3 separate regions of the Homo sapiens genome follow, and regions 1 and 2 are each reported to be linked to region 3. The links are microRNA targets in miRTarBase. Many come from high-throughput screens and were not tested one by one. Region 3 holds a microRNA gene; each other region holds the end of a gene's coding sequence.
Evidence for each region. The annotated mature microRNA hsa-miR-2052 reads UGUUUUGAUAACAGUAAUGU and lies in region 3 at 1,706-1,725, shown strand. An mRNA with a match to its seed (bases 2 to 7 or 8) in the 3' UTR can be bound and repressed. Matches are read on the target gene's strand: a 7mer-m8 pairs with bases 2 to 8, a 7mer-A1 pairs with bases 2 to 7 and ends in A, and an 8mer does both.

Region 1: the mRNA of NEMP2 is a reported target of hsa-miR-2052. Seed matches in the 3' UTR shown: 7mer-A1 at 2,348-2,354 and 7mer-A1 at 313-319.
Region 2: the mRNA of STXBP4 is a reported target of hsa-miR-2052. Seed matches in the 3' UTR shown: 7mer-A1 at 2,224-2,230 and 8mer at 117-124.

What each region holds. Positions count from the first base shown.
Region 1 is chr2:190,505,644-190,509,891 of GRCh38, forward strand. It overlaps NEMP2 (nuclear envelope integral membrane protein 2), which reads right to left. Exons shown (of 9, transcript NM_001142645.2): 9 at 1-3,669. The coding sequence ends at 3,546. Among named protein-coding and RNA genes, the nearest start is that of NEMP2, 27 kb to the right of the region's middle.
Region 2 is chr17:55,159,531-55,163,778 of GRCh38, reverse strand. STXBP4 (syntaxin binding protein 4) reads right to left here. Exons shown (of 18, transcript NM_178509.6): 18 at 1-3,982. The coding sequence ends at 3,868. Among named protein-coding and RNA genes, the nearest start is that of HLF, 100 kb to the left of the region's middle.
Region 3 is chr8:74,703,989-74,708,236 of GRCh38, forward strand. MIR2052 (microRNA 2052) reads left to right here and starts at 1,705; the gene lies at 1,705-1,759. All of the region lies in intron 4 of MIR2052HG (MIR2052 host gene), which reads left to right.

The DNA.
Region 1 (4,248 bases), not on the chromosome of region 3:
AAAAATACAGTTACCTTTAAAAGATAATCCAACTCCTAGGCCAGAGAAAGACTAAAGATTTTAACACATCTGAGTAAAAATATGCCCATCAGAGGGGGTGGGATGTTTGTCAATAATGAAGATTAGAAAAACAGCAGTCACAGAGAGGAAAAAGTTGGCAGGACCTGCATAAAGGAAGGCGTGGTCTTTGTCAACAGACCTGGTATCTCATCCCATTAACAAGGCTAGCCCCACTGGGGTGGGGGGTGGCATCTGCATCAAACTCTTTGGCCTCATGACATTAACCATGTGAATTATATAACAAGCTCCCTTTGTTTTGTTTCAGTTCACCAAGTAGCCACCTTATTATAATTTGACCCCTTGTAAATCTGTCTTCTGAGAGAGAATCTGCTGGTCATATCAAGTCAAGTGTTTTTATCCTTATGCTAGTTATATTTTTGGTTGTGAATCACTACCTGTACCAACTATATGAATTGACTAACAAGAGACAGGTCTTATGGTGCAATAACAAAAAGCAGGGTTCTAAGTCAATAAGGCTAACAGTCACACCCAAATAGTTCACTCTTCAATGTCATGCCACCCAGCAGGCTCTCTCAGAAGGCAGCTTGCTCCTGTTGTCACCTAAAAGTACCTCTCTGTCTTCCTGCAGGTGTCTTCAAACTTCCACATCCATTATGTTGTCTATCTTGCTTTCAGTTGGACAAGAAAAGCTAATTTATAAAATTGTACATCTCTCACTCTGGGAAACAATCACACATAGCATAATGTAAGAGAGCATTTCTTTAGTTGACATCATTTCAGGATCTTAATTCCTCCACATATTTAGATATTTTTATGTAATCCATCATCTATTCCAAACCCTCTTAAAATCTAAATATATGAAATTTCCAGATTTTTTTAAAAAGTCATAAATTGAAATATTGTCCTTCATGTCAGATGGACATTCCCCTGTAATTCAGCCCTAGGTATTACTGGCAAACCATACAACTAATTCACAAAGCATTTTTTGTGATATGTAAAATGTGTTTTAAAACCTTTTAAAAATAACACTTGAATGATACGATTGTTTAAGCATAGCCACCTACACTATATCTCACCCACACATCTGGTGTCAAAGAGTTCAACTTGCTAACAACAGTAAGCTTTTGTAGGCACCAAGCATAAGCAGTAAAATAACAAAGGGATCTGTTAGGCTCCATAATTATACACCTATGGTGTGTGAGGCACAAAGCCAACTTCCAACCACCTGTGAAGGGCAGAGCCATTTTATTGAGTGGTCGTTTAAACTGTTCAAAGGCCTTTAAAAAGGGAGGAGGAGAGGAGACAGGAGGTGAGGGAGAAAGAGAAGGGAAGGGAGGAAAGAAAGGAGGGAAACATTTCTTGGAAGAGTTATCTGTACATTGCTTGATGGGGATTAGAATTGTGATCAGTACTATAATACACCCCCAAATCAAATGAAAACAACATAAATACACTAAAAATATCACAAGTAATGCTTCTAATTGTTTAGCTTCTCACAGTAGTCACAAAGCAGAAACTGACAAACCTATGATTTCCTCTAAAAATAAACATGGAAAACAATATCCTCAAGGACTGCTGTTGTTCTTCTCTCTTTGGCTGTTTTTACTGTGATGGTTACACCTGGCTAGCTGCCCATGAAGAGCTGCTTCCTTCCCTCAGCAGTACCTCTTCCCCCTGGCCCAGCGGCTGTCCTGGCTGGGATGTACCTGGCAGCCCCAGCAGATTGTTCATGTGTTATTTACTCATACGCATACGTTGTAGCACACAAACTGCTTCTTAGGAGACGAACTTGGTGAGCACAGGCACTGATACATCTGATACATTTATATCACCAATAAATATAATTTAAAAAAACAGATTAAACCATAAGAAAAATATTCAAACTTCTATTTACTCATAAAATAGTTACCATAAATCTGAATGGAAAATATATCCTTTGGTTTTTTAAAAATCCAAGTCTATATAAAGGCAGATTAACTTTAGTGGATATTACAAAAAAAAAAGTTCCCAGTATGAAAAGATGTCTGGCAAAAACAGACCTGTAAATACTTCAAAGAGGAACTATCATTTGAAAATCAATCTAGGAAGTTCCAGATGGATAGTCATGCTCTTTTTTCATGATTTAGAAAAACTACTTAATTTGGCTCAGGAAAGCAGCAGTGCCAAAATTCTGTCTATCCTTCGCCCATAACCTTTGTCCTGATAAAAAGATTATTTTTATGATCCCATCACAGGAAAAAAAGCCTGATTTTGATTCTCAGAATCAACTTAGCAACATCTTAACCCTGAGATTGTCTTGCCATGTTCAAATCTTTCCTCAGATCTATGTTTTGGCCTTCTTTCCTCAGGGTCAAAGCTCATAGCCCCTCATTTCAATCTGGAGTTTAATATCATGAATCAAGAAAAAAAATCATTTTATAAGAAATTGTTACAAACACCTATAGCTAAACAATTTTTTAAATGGATCAGTCAATTCAAAATATCACAAGAGCTTAAGTGCCTTCAATTTCAAAATACAAAAAAAGTAATCATAGTATCTAATCCTTACGTATGTATATAAAAATCTTACGTATGTATAAAAAACTTTAAAATGTCTTCAGAAACATTTCCCTTTATCACAGTTAAATAGCAAGTTGGCCATTATTGAAAAATAAAAAGTAAAGCCACCAACATTGTGAGGCCCATGGCTGTAGGGAGATGGCTCCTAAGCTTGCACCTGAAGATCTTGTCTACCTGAGTCAAAGGATACATCAGGGCTGGATTTCTACCAGTGCTGCATCTCAGTGTGGTCTTGCACAAGTTATTTAACCTCTCATGAGCTCAGTTCCACCACCATTAGCATTTTCCAAACGTGTTCCAAGGAATATTAATCTCATGAAAAAGAGTTCTGTGGTCAAATTAAGCAAGAAACTGCAGCACACAATTTCTCCCCTTTGGGAGATTCACAGTGCACACGAGCATTATGAATGCCTCTGAGAGATACTGAAATACATTAGTTTAACTTTATATCAATCTTAGTTGACCTCAGAATACCTTTATTGACCAACACTTGGTAGTAGCCTGTGAGCTGTACTTTGGAAAACACTGGTCCAGCATGTCTCAGGTCTCTTTAAGGACTTATACTGACGAACTATAGGAAGAGTATTGCAGAGTCTTCTGACACAGGTTCAGGGGATTAAGACCAGATTTAGTGCCCTGGTGTCGACAAAGCACCTGTTCATGCTTACTAGCCCCTTAAGAACAACGCCATTCCCCTGTTCCTAATGAAAGCCTTCATTCAAGGTAAGTGGTAGTGGCTGTCACAGAATTTTGGTATCCACCTACAGTACAATAAGTAGCAGAAGTCACCAAGAATGCTAAGTTATCTTCAAAATGGGTTGGTTTCCCTTTCCAGACTGACTTGTTTTTCTCCACAGCAAATGTTTTTGCCACCGTTCACTAGAACAGTTCTGCCTAACTTTAATAGAATCCCTGCCCTTTGCCCACTTCCTTGTCCAGAATGAAGTCAACTTGAAGGTCGCATGTCAGGCAGTACTCGGGTTAAAGAGCTGCTCTTCCAAGAAGGCACCCCCAAGGCCATACTGCTCTTCATGCAGACTGATTTCTTCAGGTGACAAGTGGCTTCCTCCAAGAACAAAGTCTGCAAATCTAACAAGTTTTTTGTTTTAAATAAAGTTAATGTTATCTCAGGAAGGTTTATTTGAAAGATAACATGTTCCCTTGCTATTTATCCCCTTTAATTAAATTTGACTTTGCATCAATACAGGGTGGCATTTACACAGTGGGTGTAAAAATGGGAATGGCTTATGTGATCCCTCTAAAAACAGCTATTCATGGAAAGGGCAGAGAATTAGGGCAGATATATAAGCACTAAGTAAGCCAAATGTACTCACTCCTGTTTTCTAATTCCTTCTTGTCTCTATTTTTTATTAGTTTGAATTTATTATTATTCATTATTTTGTTTCAAATACTTCCCCCTTCCATCTTTAATTTGAGGGCACTGTTATTTGGATAAAGTTATGAGGAAGAGAAAGCAATAAGGAAAAATTTTGGGACAGACGTCTTTCTTAGTGAACTTTAAAAATGATTTTCCAGCTGGGTGCGGTGGCTCATGCCTGTAATCCCAGCACTTTGGGAGGCCAAGGCAGGCAGATCACGAGGTCAGGAGTTAGAGACCAGCCTGACCAACATGGTGAAACCCCATCTCTACTGAAAATACAAAAATTA
Region 2 (4,248 bases), not on the chromosome of region 3:
GTAAAGGGTTGCTCTTCAGGGGTTCTTAATAAACAACCCCCTAACTTCTTACCCCTTTAAGAGGTTGTTTAGGGGGAAAAAAAAGAAAGAAAAATGGTTTTAGACTATGAGCTCCTTGTTTTGAGAATCAGTACCATTTAGCCTCATAGCATGCAAATTTCACATTTTGCCTGGCATGTAGCAGGTGCTCAGGAAGTGTTTGCTGAGTTGAACTGGTTTGAGAAAAGGCAAGGGATTACTATCCTTATTATTCAGATAGGGAAAGTGAGGCCCAAAGAACTCGAAGATGCATTTGTATTGTGCTTGGTACTTTAGTGAACGTCTCACCCAAGTTAGCTCATTTGAAAGTTGGTCCTCGCAACCATTACATGTAAAGTAGGAAAAGAGAAGAGTAATGATGTGTTTGACATATAGTGAGTTAGTCACTACTTGACTTCCCTCTATACAGCAAGTCAGTCTCTGCTGCTAAAGGAAATCTAAAACCTAATGATTAAAAATCTCAGGTTCTTGGACTTGGTGGAAGGAAGGTTATTCTTCCAAGGACAAAAAAAAAAAAAAAACCCAGAAAATCTATAGGAACATTTGGACTAAAAAAAGTCCTATCATACATAAAAATAAGGCTCACATACACTATTGGTGGTAATGTAAGTTGGTCCTACTTTTATGGAGAATTTATGGATATGTACCAAAATTAAAATGAATGTAACTTTGACCTAGCTTTGATCAAGAAATTTATGAATGTATTCACACTATAGACATACTAGCACAAGAGTGCAAAGATACATGAGGAAAAGGATTTAATGAATATATAAATGTTCACTGTGACATTGTTAGCAATAAGAAAACTTAAAACATTTTAGTGTTCAATAAATTGCTGGCCACACAAATTATAGGTTATGTGGGTAGTGATATTTTATGTAGACATTTGAAATAAAAGATTAATCTATGTATTGACATGAAAAGATGACCACAACATAACATGTCAAAACCAAGCTGCTTAATAGTGTGATTTCCTTTGAGTAAAATCACTCACCACAGTATTAGTGACTGCTACCTCTGGAAAGTGAGACAGGCTATCTCTTACTTTATTCACTTCCAAAGTACTTGATTTTTTTTAAATAAAATAGATTAGTTTTAAAATTCAAAAATTAAGAAGCAGCTGTTTAGTCCTGGCCACACACAAACTCTTTTGTTGTTTTTTTTTTTTTAAATCAAGAGTAAGTGGAACCCAGGAAATGATTAGCAATTGTTCTACTTCACCACAGTGTTTAGCACAGTGCTTGTGACATTGTTGGTGCTCAATAAATATTTTGAGGGAATGAGTGAGTAAGGATGAGTCAACTTGGGCACTCTAGTAAAGTGAGACGGAAGGACATAAGAACATTCAGATTTTCTAACCCTAAAATCCAAGCCAGTGAGTCAATGAAGACTTCGTGATGACCACATTGCTACGGTTGATTGATGTTAAAGAAAGACTGGCTACTCGCCAAAACATAATATGAGGGTCGTATTTGCACTGGAAAAGGATTCTTGCTAAGCCCTGACCATGCTTTTTTGAGCATCTCTTATGGCACCGACCTGATGGTTTAGAAGTCACGGAAGCTTTATGAAGAGGGAATCTGAGAGAGTGGCCAACTGGTTCAGTCCATTCACACACTGAACCTCCTCAGCAACATTCCCCAAGTAAGGAATTCAGATTGCTGGGATAGTGTTTCCATTTTCTCCTGGGGAATTCTTTTCTTATCAGCTCTAATTACTAGAAAGTTCCTTATGACACTGAACTAGAATCTGCCTTTTTATAAAATGTACCCATAGACAATGAATCTAAGCAGTTCTCCATAGTGGTTTAGAGAACAGCTTCTGGAATCACAGATCTGCCTTGAACCCTAGCTTCTACACATAGGTGCTTTGTGACCCTTAGGCAAAGATTACTAACTCTCTAAAACTAAGTTTTTTCTTTTAGAATTGGGGATAATTACAGTTCCTATTTCATGGAATGGTTTTAAGAAGATCATAAATAAATATATGCAAACTGCTCATCACCATGTATGGCACAAAATGCCCAATAAATAATATCATTACAATTGTTTAGGCCTTTTTCACTAGGTATTTGACAGAAACAGGGCGGCAAGTGGTACAAAACAGCAGTTAATGGATGAGGTGTCTCTTGTCAGTGGGCTGTGTGCCTGAGTACTTTGATTTCAGTGACTCAAGCACCTTCTTTGTTTTGCTCACTAGAAACGAATTAGAAAACTCTTCAAGCAGGGGGAGAGAAATTTCATACCATTAATTTGACAAAAACAAGAAGTTTGTACTTTCACAATTATAGACACTAACTTATAGAATACCTCATTCACCTCTGGGGGGTGCAAGGAAATAGCTCCCTCTGGGGCTTCTCTCAAAACTTGTCTCCCCGAAGCTTCCTAACATTCAAATGGCTGTCAGGCAAAACACAAGTCTTCCCTAGCCATCCTGAAACATTTCTCATGGCTAATGACTACCTATCAGTCTGGAGTTGACTTTATATTATTACTCAAGACATAAATCACAAATCCTAAATGGATTCAGGAATGTATAGTTGAGCACAATGTATATGTATATCTTTACCATATAAATCTGTATTATACACCATATGAAATTCAGTAGACTAGGAGACTTAAGATCTCAGTTTACTCAACTATAAAATGGCTACAATGAATGGTTCTTAGACTATGTTCTAAGGACCTCTAGGTCTGCACAGCAGTGCTGGGAGCTGCTCGACTTGGGCTTTAGGCTTCCATCTTGTTTCGAGTAGAGCAGTAATGTTTTAACAGATACCTCTCTTCTCATCAGCTCCCCTCAAACCATCCCTCTGGGAAGGGCAACCTAAGCAGGACAAACCATGCCTTTCACTTTAGAAAAACACGAGCTGCTGAAAGAAGTCTGCTGAAACAATATCACAAAGAGTGCGCCTACTTGGCGAAGGCTTGGGTGCAGAGAAGGGGGAAGGGTTTATAGGAGAAGAATAGTGGGGTTATAGAGGGGCCATGTTTGACCGAAGAGGTGCCTTCTGAATCTCTGTGGAATGCACAGCTGTGGAGCCAGCTGCATCAACACAATCACAGTGTCCTGCGTGATGGGCTGTGACCTCCCTCCGTGGAGACAGCAGGGTATGGGGGAAGGGGGACTGCTCATGGAATCAGAAGACTTAGGAGTGAGTCTCGGTGCTGGGACAGAGAGCTTCCTCTCTCTGAACTGCTATTTCCCTACTGAAAACCAAGAATAAACATACCCACCAGATCAGCTTCACGGGCATGTTGTATGGTTTAAAGACAATGGGGTCTACAAAGCATTTTGTAAATTAGAAAGCTCCACAAAGATACCAGCTGTATTCATCAGCCCATGAGATGTCTAAATGTGATCCTTAAATTCCAAAAAGCTTGCTAAGTTCACTTTCCTAATATATGAATATAAAACATTAGTGAATTATCAAATAAATGAGGTGTTTCATTATGTTCATATACTTTTTCAATATGTCAATTATAAAAACCATTGTATCTGAGACCCTATGAAGAACTACATATGAAATTACAAAGAAAGATCTAATTATATATGAAAAAGTATATATATTATAAAGTCTAATTATATGTGATTTCAAAAAATATAACTAGATTATTCTTAAGGAACTACTGTAGTGGCAATTGATTTTTTAAATGTATACAGAAATATCAAAAGTTTTACAAAAATACCCAAAGTCCAGAGTCTCCATTTCACACTTCAACAAGTAGTGCATGCTTTACTCCTATTTTAGACTGTTTCATCTCAGAATTGGATGTTATGCGTCTCTGCTCACATCATCCATGTAGCTCCACTTCCTAAGGAAAACCATCAACTTTTCTGGTTGGGGAGTTCTCTAGAGCAATCCTCTTCATTCTCCTCTGAGCGAGATAGATTCAGGACACTCATCACGGGATGGATCCAGGATGTAGTCTGTGTTACATGACTTGAGAAGAACAAGAATGCAATTAGAATCTGAAAGACTGTCCTTCTACTCATCCATGCAAGTACTGATCCTGGTGACATTGCTTCTACCCTAGTAAAGTCCCTGTGATAGGAAGCAGTTAGAACTAGATCCAATAGCTTTAATAAGTCTTAGACACATTTTAAGCTTCAATGAAAACCATTTCTTTCTTTCTTCTTTGGTTAAAAAGGAATGCAGGTGAATGCAGCATCTCTAACTCCTTTCGTTTCAGTATCTGACATTCAGTA
Region 3 (4,248 bases):
TAGTTATATTTTGGGTTGTAAAAGGGATATTTGAGTAGGGTGGTAACTCTTTTGAGGGAAAGGTAAGAATAGGAGGAAGGGAACATCTGGCTAATGGGAAACATATATCTATATGGGAATAGATCTGTGATTTTTTTTCTATTAATTTTCTAAAATTTATTTCTTTTCGTGGGTATCTGCAATGTGTGGAAGTTACTGGAAAGCAGAGGTCCTTTCCCCACTAAAGAAGGCCTTAAGAGACAAATATTTTCTTTCTATACTTCTTGGCAATGAGAGCATTGGCATGTGATCAATGCTTGGTTGTTCCTTCGGGACAGTGCATCTTGAGGAAGTGACCAAGGGACACATGCAATAGTTTTATGCTTCTTGCCTCACTAACATCCATGTGTGCCAAAGATAGATGGAGTCTTTCCAGGCACTAACTACAGAGAATAAAACTATGATCTCCTGGGAGGTGTCAGGAGGGTAGTAGTCATCTGGCCATAGGAGATCCAGCAATTTCTTTTTCATATAGACTTCCATTCCTCCTATCCTCAGCCCTCAGACTTTCCCCTTTTTCTTTTTACTAAATCTGATGCCTACAGGCCTCTCTGGGATTTCTTCAGGGTGAATCAACTTTATTCTCCTCAGGATCCCAAAGTGGGGATAACTGCACTTAGAATTACAGTGCTGTCACTCAGCTACCTCAGTAATCTCTCTCCTACACTTCTCATCTTCCAAAACTTGGTTGAAATGTTTCATCTACTGAGATCTCCCAAATGGTTTATCTTTTTTGACTTGATAAACATTTCATTTAAGGAAATTTTGGAAGAACTTCAGGAGGCAGAGGAGAAAAATACATATTGGCAACATATCAAGTTTAACATTGCAATCTTCACAAACTATCCTCTTTCAATGGTTAGGATAAGCATGGCAGGATAATTGTATTGTTAAAACATGTCCAGAAGTTAACTGTGAATAATATCACTGTGCTCTAAAGCATAGGGCCACATCATTATTGAAAGTTGCACTGGTCATGATGGTATAGCAGCTCAGCTGAACTTCCTTTACTTTTATTCTTTCTTTTTTTTTTTTCCAGTGGAAGATGTCAGGATGTCAGGATCTTCCACTAAATGGGGCAACTTTTGCATCAGAGTTTGATTGACTACTGTTAATGTCTGTCTCAATTTTGATTTCTAATTCAGACAATATTACAAGAAAACCCAGTTTAGGGACATGCCAAAAGTTTCATAGGAAAAAATTATTTAATTGAGTTTTTATGTTTGCCAAAACCCACTCAGTTAAAATACTTTGCAGACATTTTTTTTTCTAGTAAAATTAAAAGTATTTAACGTTCTTCCATATGTTTCAGGTTGAAAGTTGATGTACTAACCCTTTCTCTTCAGCCTCTCTAAAAAGTAAATAACCTCAAAAATTGAACTGGATGTAAAAGTCATATATTTTCATTCTAAGATTGATACTTAAGGTCGTTTCCAAATACCACTACTCTGGCTGAATTTATGGCCTTTTGATGCCCCAGACTGTTTCCTTTTGAGGACTCTGACCAAGAGTCTGATCTTTCTATAGTTGGCCTGTGAGATTTGAAAGGGAAAAGCCTTCAGTAAAACATAGAGATGGTGCTTGTAGTCAAGGGATACGACCTTAGGCAGAAAGAAGGGGGAAAAAAAGACCATGTCAGTTTCTACTTCCAAGAAAAGCTGGTTGCTGTTTTGATAACAGTAATGTCCCTTTAGTTCAAAGTTACCAGCTATCAAAACAAGTTGCAGTCCATAGCAGACTAACTCCTTTCCCTTACAGAGAAGCAGATTCTAGTGTAACTGACTCCAAATAAAAATATATTTACGATAAAACTAGGCCCATGGATAGCAAGCAGAAATCAGAAAAAAACTAAACTTCTGAAATGTTCGGGAAAAAAAATATCATATGCTGTTTATATCCCTACAACTAAGATATCATTAGAAAAATTGTGTTAGAAGGAAATAAAATTCTAAAAGACGACACATCAAGGAGACAGGGTAATAGAAATTAAGTATCTATTAAAGTAAAATACAGAATCACTCCATCACATGTGTTAACTGTTCAGCAAAGCAGTTCTGCTCTGCAGTTGGTATGAGGTTTGAGCAGGAAGTATTATTGTCTGGCGTCAGAGCCAGGGCAGGATCCAGCTTGAACCTCCAAGTCATTTCACAAGGAAATATGAAATTGCAGAACAGTGTGGGTGGGCAATGGACATGACCTGACTTTCATTTATTAAATAAACACAGACTTGAGTAGTTGTACTTCTGAGAACATTAGCAGTGGCATTGCCAAGGTATAGCACTTGGGGAAGAGGGAGTTTTGTCCCTTCATAAATCTCCATGAGCAACCCCCTCTAAGTCATCCCTCATAAATTTACAATCTAAGTAATCTAAGTAAAATCAAGTGTGCTTGCTCTGTAATGTAGCTTCCAGGCAAATTAATTAGCGTTCACTTCCAAAAACCTTCTCACTCCTAAGTCCTTTCTATAGCGAAATTCAGGAGCTGCCAGTGTTAGTCCAACTCCCAAGATTATGTGCAATGTTGGTTCTTGCACGAACCAGAGCACGAGGGGCCTCCTTGGTCTCCAGTTCTCTTGTATCATTGTTTCATTTGCTGGCAACGAGAGCAGGTAAAGAAAACCATAGTGTTTGTGTAGTATAAAAGATGACTTCTTAAAGATGTGCAGACAGCAAAATCCATGCTTAACCAATTGTAAAAATAAGAAAACCTGAAAACAATTACTAATCTATTTATACATGTAAAAACTGGAAAATGAATTCTTAGTATATGGACTGGACAGCTCTCAGAAAATTTTTTTTCACAAGCTTCTTGGCGGGGAAGGGCATATTCTGCTTCTAGGCAGAAATGAAGTCGTTGGGGAGGATTTGCAAGTGCGTGAAGTGGATGCACACGGGTGAGGCGTGCCCATTTTAGGTCAAATGCACTTTTCTAAAATGTATTGGTTAAGAAATAAAAAGAGTACCACAGAATTTCATCACATCCCACTATTGCATTTTCTAATTATGGTGTTTGTCAATGTGACTAGTGAAAATTCAATATTTATAAAATAACTACATTCTAAGCCTGTGATGCACAGTCAGTGTTTGAATCAGAGAATTTGTGAGTTAAAATTCCCTCCCATGTAGATATCTGTCGTCACCTGAAAGCTCTTACCATCTGATCTAAATATGTGAGGCACTGCTGGGTGCTATATTGTTACATTGAGTGTTTGAGGTTGGAAATAATTTTAAAACCGATTGAGTCTAATGGCCACATCTGCCCAGGAGAGGCTGAAAGTCTTCTTCAGAATACACCCATGCTGACAGAGTGATAGCCACTGTTATAAATACAAAGTCTGTGAAATAAAAATAAAATACATACAAGCAATTAGGATAGTATCGATATGGTAGAGTCTGAAAGGTATCAAGAAAGCTACAAAGTCAGACAGGTTAAGCAACCAGAATTCATTTTCTTGTTTAGTCACTCAAAATATTCTTTTTCTAGCCACAATGTTGCAACCAGTTTTATGGATTTGTGCCCTGATAGTATGCAACTCTTTGTAGTCTTTGGACTTTTTTTTTAACTGCAACTGGGGCTATTGGGCTATTTTCATAAACTGTCACTTAACTGGGCAAAATTCCAGTCCAGATGCTCCTGGAGTGTTTTTATGTATGAGACATTGTCTGCTTATTAAGGCTTGTCTGTAATTTCAGTTAAACTGTTGAGTGGACATTGTTGCTTACAGAAGTTAGAAGATACCAGAGAAAGAATGGACAATTTTTGTGAGAAACAAGCAATTCTCTGATGTTTGAGATAATATTAAATAAATCAACCGGAGATGATGATGGATTAACTAATTAAGGGATCCACGTAGTCTTTACAAAGGCACCCAGGAGGTGCTTATAATATCCTTGAGGATGGATGTCTTTATGATGCAAACAGTGAAAAGAACTCTCCTTGGAAGAAGACAAGATGAAAGAACTTTGTCTAAGTTCCAAATGGAAATGGAACTCCCCCATTAAAAGTTAAAAAAAGTAAAGAGGAAGACCTAGAGGAAGTTCTTCAATAGAGAGTCTTCGGCTTTCTCTATCTGTGAGCCATTTTGCTCCAGGGAATATGTTTCCTCATAAATTTTATGAAGAGACCCCGTGATCTGGCATCTTGAGTTGGCATATAATTGAACCCACTCACAGGATCTTAATATCCTCTGCCAAAGGAGTCATCATCTGA